Regions from separate parts of the Homo sapiens genome. Here region 1 is linked to region 2. The links come from fine-mapping of genetic effects on gene expression. Tissue or cell type: whole blood. Region 2 holds a variant in brackets; the other region holds the start of a gene. All regions are shown on one strand. Distances are from middle to middle.

Region 1 (4,000 bases), 150 kb after region 2:
CGCCCCATCTGGGATATGAGGAGCGCCTCTGCCCGGCAGCGACCCCGTCTGGGAGGTGAAGAGCGTCTCTGCCCGGCCGCCCCGTCTGAGAAGTGAGGAGACCCTCTGCCTGGCAACCACCCCGTCTGAGAAGTGAGGAGCCCCTCCGCCCGGCAGCTGCCCCGTCTGAGAAGTGAGGAGCCTCTCCGCCCGGCAGCCACCCCATCTGGGAAGTGAGGAGCGTCTCCGCCCGGCAGCCACCCCGTCCGGGAGGGAGGTGGGGGGTCAGCCCCCCGCCCGGCCAGCCGCCCCGTCCGGGAGGGAGGTAGGGGGGTCAGCCCCCCACCCGGCCAGCCGCCCCGTCTGGGAGGTGAGGGGCGCCTCTGCCCGGCCGCCCCTACTGGGAAGTGAGGAGCCCCTCTGCCCGGCCACCACCCCGTCTGGGAGGTGTGCCCAACAGCTCATTGAGAACGGGCCAGGATGACAATGGCGACTTTGTGGAATAGAAAGGCGGGAAAGGTGGGGAAAAGATTGAGAAATCGGATGGTTGCCGTGTCTGTGTAGAAAGAAGTAGACATGGGAGACTTCTCATTTTGTTCTGCACTAAGAAAAATTCTTCTGCCTTGGGAAAAAAAAAAAAAAAAAACTTCTGAGGGGTGAGTTTAAACTGTTTGCCATGTATCATATGACCTCCCCCAGGGCCCAGAGTACCCTAATGTCTTTGTACTCGTCAATGTTTTGTGTGGGAAGGGTGCGGGCAGTCCTTAGGGAGAGCTGAGTTTCCTCTCCAGACTTCTGAACTGTGGTACGCAACAGCCTGGCAAAAGCAGAAACCCAGAGGCAGAGATATTTAGGAGAATATAAATCCCCAGATATTTGCAAATATGTTAAGGGAGGGACTCTGACTTTCACCGTCCATTTTTACCTCAATCTCAAAGGGCAAGGAGGTTGACATCTAAGTTACAAATATAATGCACAAGCATTTCAAAAAGTAGGGGAAAAAAAAGAAAAAGAAAAAGAGAAGCAGAAAGAAGGGGGAAAAAATCACTCATCCCTGCCAGGCACGGTGGCTCACGCCTGTAATTCCAGCACTTTGGGAGGCTAAGGTGGGAGGATAACTTGAGTCCAGGAGTTCAAGACCAGCCTGGGCAACATGGCAAAACCCTGTCTCTACTAAAATTACAATAATTAGCTGGGCGTGTGGCGCATGCCTGTAATCCCAGCTACTTGGGAGGTTGAGGCAGGATAATCGCTTGAACCCGGGAGGCGGAGGTTGCAGCGGGCTGAGATTGCGCAACTGCACTCCAGCAGGGGCGACAGAGTGAAACTGTGTCTCAAAAAAAAAAAAAAAAAAAAAAATCACTCATCCAGATAGCTAGGTGTGGCCTAAGGAGCTTGCGGCCTACGGAAGGTGTGGCCGAAGGAGAGGGGAGGGGTCATCTTTAATGATGATGGAGGGGAGGCATTGGTCATATACCTGAGAGTCAAGCTTTGTTCATCGTCAGATGAAAGCCAACTTCTTCCACCAGATTGCCTCCCAGCTGCTAGGTAGTTTCCTGTGGTACATCTTAAGCGGTAGGTTGGGATAATAGGTCCCTTCCAGGTCTTAAAGATGTGGATTAATAAGAACAGAATTTTCTACAACAATAAGGAGGATGTCCCCTATTTTAGGTGAATAAGCGTATTGCATAAGCACATGGGAAGAAAGGTTAAGAACTCTAAGACCGTAAATTTCCAGTTGTAGAAGCCTCTTGAAGGCGGAAAGCCCTTTTTTGAAAATTATAGGCGATATGATCTCCTCCAGTGGACCTAGCACTGGGTTAAGAGTCTCTCCAGACTTGTCACTGCAAGTCACGTACCTTTTCTAGGACTAAGTTTCTTCACTGGAAGATGAGGAGGTTGCACTAGATGACCTAGAAATTCCCTTCCAGCTTTAAATTCCCTCTTGTGTCACTTGCTGGACTTGTTCTACTGGACCTGGCGCTCCCCTGCTCCTCCCTTAGCTGCTACGTCCGCATCCCGCACCAGAGGGCGCCACAGGCTGGCCCGGGGCAGCGTGCGGTGGGCGGAGAGGCAGAATTAGGGGAGTCTCCAGGAGGCGTGGTGATTGGCCGCCGCCGGGCGGAAGGGGGCGTGGGGAGGGAAAGGCCGAGCAGCGCGGTGACGTCTCGCTGGCGGGGGCGGGGCCGGGCCGCGGAGCGTGTGACGCTGCGGCCGCCGCGGACCTGGGGATTAATGGGAAAAGTTTTGGCAGGAGCGGGAGAATTCTGCGGAGCCTGCGGGACGGCGGCGGTGGCGCCGTAGGCAGCCGGGACAGGTCAGTCCGAGACGAGAGAAGCGGTCAGGCAAGTGGCGGAGGGAAGCGCCGGGCCTGGGCCGAGGCGGCCAGCGGGACTGGGGCGCAAGGCCCGGCGGCGGGGAACGGGGTGCGGGGAGCTGCCGGGGTCCGCGGACAGCGTCACGGCGGCTTCCTGATGCTCCGGCCCGCTCCGGTCAGCCGTCGTGCGTTGCCATGTAGGCGCCCCGCTGACCCTGCGCCCCCCCGCCCTTGGACCCCCATAGCTGCTTGAGTGAGTCCGAAATACGGGCCTCCTTCCACCCTACTCTTTGCCCCCTCTTGGGCCTGGTGGCTTCGTCTTCTCCCACTTGTGAGAACCCCGTCTCAGGCCCGGGGGCCTCTCCCATTCCCCTCCCCTGCCTCTGACCTCTTCCTTCACCCGTTTCTGGTGTTCCTGAATCCACTGCCCTATCTAGCGAGAGTCTTCTCTGGGATCTTTTCCTCTGTCCCCCTCGTTATCCTTGTCTCCTGCCTTCATCCTCCCATCCTTGCTCTCTCAGGCTTTACTCTCTCTCCCCATCCCTGTCCCCTTCTTATCTGTGGTCTGATCCCTCCTAGTATTATGGGTCCCCATCCTCTTCCCCAGGGTGTTCCTAGGCTTTTTCCAACTCCGTGCCTGCAGTCCCTGTCTCCCTAAGACTCTCACCTTGGTTCCCTGAGAGGCCCTGTTTTTGCTCCTTTTTCCGATTTCCTTCGTATCAATTCTGTCCCCTACATTCCTGTCGCCCACCTCCTTTTCTCTCCCTGTTCCTTTCCCCTGCTTCAGGGAGAAGCCTTAGCTCCACACTCTACTCTACTTTCACTTGACCTGCAGTTGACATAACCATGGGGTGGGGGTGGAGGTGTTCAGACCTTGATCGAATTAAGAGGCTGATTGACTAAAGGAAATAACAGATTGTGTGGGAGAATGTACGTGGGTGTTGCATCAGAGATGATGTCCAATTTGTAGGCCATTCTTCTTATCTCAGCTTTAATACTTCCCCTTTATGGGGCTGTTGACTTCCAGGAACCCTTGGGGGAGACGGCGCTGAGCTGGATGTGTGCCACGGGTAGCCGGAGGCTTTGTCCAATTCTTTTCCCCTTCCAGGAACCGGGGTTTTGTGTCTTTCCACTCTGGATGTGTGGAATACACTTATACCATGATACCCCAGCCTCTCTCTGCCCTCACTCCCACCCTCCACCCTGTGCTCCATCCGAAAGGACTAAGAGAATTCTCCAGAAGCTGTGCTCCAGAAAATACTTGTGGTCCTCAACCTTTTTTCTGTGTACTGGCTCCAGAACTTTTTTTTTTCCCGTTTGAGTTTTGAAATAGATTGCTGGCCTGATAGCCCTGGGGCTGGCGGGCATCTGTCCCCTTTTATTATTGGTGGCTTGAAACAGCTGCTGATTTTCTCTCATATCTCTTTGACAATCTTTGGCCAACTGAATGTGCCTCTGATGTTGGTCACTGAACATGTTCTCTTGGAGTCTCTTCTCCCTCTTTTTTCTTTGTTCTTTTCTGAATCTAGGGAATCCAAATTGTCCCTCTTTTTCCCTGGGAGCTTAATTTCCTCTGTATCCAGGAGGAACGGCAATCCCAGAGCTCTGTTCCCTTTGCCCAGGCATAGTATGAGGTATCAGATTGATAACTACCCTGGTGGGCTGTGGGGCTGCAGTAGTTAGACCTTGTCAGGAACTTGAGCA
Region 2 (4,000 bases):
CTGTGATTGGTTCTGTGCTGTATACAGTCCCTTGTGTGACTACCGTAATGTCCAGTCTCCATGTCAGCTGCTTCCAGCTTTTCATGATTACATACAGCACTGCCATGAACATTCTTATGCACCTACAAAACAGAGCTTCTTCAGAGTAAAGACTTAGGAGGGCATCTTCCTATTGATGACATATTGCCAAATAGCTCTCTAAAATGGTTTTACCAAGTCATTCCACATCCTCACCATCACTTGGTTATGTTTGATGAGTGGGACATTCCCCGAAGGTTTTAATAAAGTTGAACTCTTTTTTCCTTTTGATACGGGGTCTCACTCTGTCACCCAGACTGGAGTGCAGTGGTGCAATCACAGCTCACTACAACATCTGCCCCCAGGCTCAAGTGATCCTCCCACCTCAACCTCCCAAGTAACTAGGACTACAGATGTGCACTACCAGGCTCTGCTAGTTTTTTTTGTATTTTTTGTAGAAACAGGGTTTCATCATGTTGCCCAGACTGATCTTGAACTCCTGGTCTCAAGCGATCCTCCCACCTCAGCCTCCCAAAGTGCTAGGATTACTGGCGTGAGCCACTGTGCCTGGCCTAAATTGAACTCATTAAGTCAGTTCATATATGTTTATCAAACACCATCTACGTACCAAGCACACAACTAGAAGCTGAGGGTAATGAAGGGGGATAGAACTCAGTCTCTGCCCTCAGTGAGCTTGCAGTCTGGTGAGAAATCACCTCATTCTCTTACCCACAGGAAACCACTGTCTTCTTTTTTTTTCTTTTTTTTGGAGATGGAGTCTTGCTCTGTTGCCCAGGCTGGAGTGCAGTGGCATGATCTTGGCTCACTGCAAGCTCTGCCTCCCAGGTTCACGCCATTCTCCTGCCTCAGCCTCCCAAGTAGCTGGGACTACAGGCGCCCACCACCATGCCTGGCTAATTTTTTTTTTGTATTTTTAGTAGAGACAGGGTTTCACCATGTTAGCCAGGATGGTCTCGATCTCCTGACCTTGTGATCCGCCCGCCTCGGCCTCCCAAAGTGCTGGGATTACAGGCATGAGCCACTGCGCCCAGCCCACTGTCTTCTTTTTAAAGGACATGCTCATAAACTCATGACAAGACAAAAGCCAGGTGCTTGGGCAGAAGGGCCTAGGATCTGAGGGCCCAAACACCTTCAGCCAAGCTCAGACAGGATGGCTAGAACCTTGGCTCAAAGCTGGTGGCCCCTCAGGCTTCTGGAACAGGGTGGCTGGAAGGCTCAAGGCAACAGCCACGGTCTGGTGAATCACCCTTGGGTGGTAGTGCCCCTGCATTCAGAAGGCCAACAAGAAGCCTTCAATTCTCTAGGTAAGCAGTTGGCAAGACTAGGCTGGGGGCAGGTGTATGAGGGAACTGTAATCACAGCAGTATTAGTGGTGCCAATAATCATATTAAAGCAATCCTGCAAGACAGGCAGGGTGAGGAATCAAGTGTGTCTCCTGGGATTTGGGCCTGAGCCACCAGGTAGGAGGATCGGGTCAGAGGCAAGGTCAGTGAATGGAGAGCTCTATTTCTGTCTGGTTGTTTGAGGAGCCACGTCAAGTCAGCAGTGTGCTAATTATTGAAACTTATGCTTTCCTGCATTGTAGAGTTGATTATCTTTCTTATATATCTTTTTCTTATAGCAAATGAAGGACTCCTTGAAAGAAGTGGCAGGGATCTCAAAAATATTCTTATCAATGTTCTGTATCTTGATCATAGTGGTGTTTACACAAGGGTATGCATTTATGGAAACTCATCAAACTGGACACTTTAAGTCTGGGGTACCCAACCCCTAGACTAGTACCTGTCTGTGGTCTGTTAGGGACTGGGCTGCACAGCAGGAGGTGAGCAG[C/T]GGGCAGGTGAGCATTACCACCTGTGCTCTGCCTCCTGTCAGATCAGGAGTTGAGAATAAAAGCTAAAATGGCTCTTGGCTATAGCTCTGGGTATAGCTTAACTAAGGAAATCAATCCAGAAATGCACATTGAACCCAGGTATCAGCAGGATGTGACTCCAGACTCTCTAAGGGATATGAAAACATTTTTTAAAAACCACCTTAATCAAGTTATAATTCACATACAATAAAATGCAACCACTTAAAGCAGCAGTCCCCGACCTTTTTGGCACCAGGGACCAGTTTTGTGGAAGAGAATTTTTCCATGGACCAGGAATAGGGTGAGGGTAGTTTCAGGATGAAATTGTTCCACCTCAGATCATCAGGCATTAGATTCTCACAAGGAGCATGCAACCTGGATCCCTTGCATGCGTGGTTCACAATAGTGTTTGAGTGCCTGTGAAAATCTAATGCTGCCACTGATCTGATAGGAGGCCGAGCACAGGTGGTAATGCTCACCTGCCCGCTGCTCACCTCCTGCTATACAGCCCAGTCCCTAACAGACCACAGACAGGTACTGGTCTGGGGGTTGGGTACCCCAGACTTAAAGTGTCCAGTTTGATGAGTTTCCATAAATGCATACCCTTGTGTAAACACCACTATGATCAAGATACAGAACATTGATAAGAATATTTTTGAGATCCCTGCCACTTCTTTCAAGGAGTCCTTCATTTGCTATAAGAAAAAGATACATAAGAAAGATAGTCAACTCTACAATGCAGGAAAGCATAAGTTTCAATAATTAGCACAGGCTATGAGGGCCAGGGTATGGAGGGGGCAGCCTCTTGGGAAGTACCTGGTCCTAATGCCAATATACTTGGGACAGGAAGCTCTCCATCACCCAGAGAGAGCCAAGGCAGAGGCAGGCCAGGCACCACAAGACCTGCTTCTCCCAAAATATTTCACTGGCCTGAAATGCCACCATGAGTCACCCCTTTGGTTTAAAACATTTGCTAGTCCCTCTGAAATAGCCATATTAAAATGTACATAAATGACCCACAAGACAACCTTTGAGGTGTGTGGCAATTTTACCTCCACTGACATGTGCAGGTAAAATTGGTTATTGGATTCTGCTACCTCAGGAGAGGAGAGGGCAGCTGCTGGACTCCTCTCATCTCCTCATTTTTTAAAAAACCCCGTGAGAGAGTGATTTCCTTCTTTTAGGATGTCTCAAATCACTACACGGAGGCAAGCCCCATTTGAAAGCTTGTAACATCCATCCTAACCCCAAAAGAAGGGGGATTTTGTGAGAAGAATGAGTTCAGCAGGGATGTGGGAGAGGCCCAGCACAGGGGTGGGGGGGAATACCCAAAGTCCATGGTCATCAGGGGCATTGGGGCACTGAAGGTTAGGACTACAGGTGTTTCCCCCTGGAAAAGAAAAGACTGCAGAGGTAGGAGATTGCTGCCCTCAAATATCTGAAGGGTGGTCGTGAGGAAAGAGGACTGGAATAGTTTGATGTGACCTAGTTGGGAGTAGGGTGGGGAAAGCCAGAAGGCAGCAGGTTTTAGCTCAACGTGGGGAAGAACTTTCTTATGGTCAGAGTTACAGGCAAGGGAATGGGTTGCCCCAGGAAGTGGTAAGATCCCTGTCATTAAAGGTATGTAAGCTGAACCCAGACACCCCTTAGCAAGAATTCAAGCTCTTAGGTCCCTTCCATCACTGAAATTCTCTAATTTGTTGGTAATCTCATGGGTAGCCCTTAAGAAGCCCCAAACCAACAAATATTAGTTGAGCAATTGCTTTGTACAAGGCAGGATGGGGCTTGGACGCCAAGGCACAAAAGCCATGGCCTCTGGCCTCTATTTAGCTGGGCAGGTGGTATAGGGGCAGGGTGTGTTTAGAATCACAGAAAGGATAGAAAACACATACTTTTACATTTCAGAAGGAGGAGATCCTGCCAAGCGCTACAGTAGTCCAGGGAGGCTCCCAGGAGGAGGCAAGATGGGGGAACAAGCCCTGGGAGAGTCTTCAGAATTCAGACAGGTAGAAAGAAAGCAGAGGGTCCCATGACGGGGGAGGTAGGAAATGATGAGGTGCCAAGCTGGCTGGAAGGATGGAACATGAGGGAATAAACAGAAGTATTGGAGAG

What was found. PIP is the estimated chance that this variant, and not a neighbour inherited with it, causes the effect. A credible set is the group of variants that fine-mapping cannot tell apart.
Region 1: PPARD starts here. The variant in region 2 is the best candidate, but not a certain one, in a credible set for the expression of PPARD in whole blood (TOPMed, PIP 0.59).

Annotation. Positions count from the first base shown.
Region 1 is chr6:35,340,386-35,344,385 of GRCh38, forward strand. It overlaps PPARD (peroxisome proliferator activated receptor delta), which reads left to right and starts at 2,173. Exons shown (of 8, transcript NM_006238.5): 1 at 2,173-2,296. RefSeq lists silencers at 2,025-2,234, 2,415-2,554, 2,585-2,634.
Region 2 is chr6:35,187,680-35,191,679 of GRCh38, forward strand. No RefSeq gene overlaps it. Among named protein-coding and RNA genes, the nearest start is that of SCUBE3, 24 kb to the right of the region's middle. The variant C/T (reference allele first, on the strand shown) is at 1,870.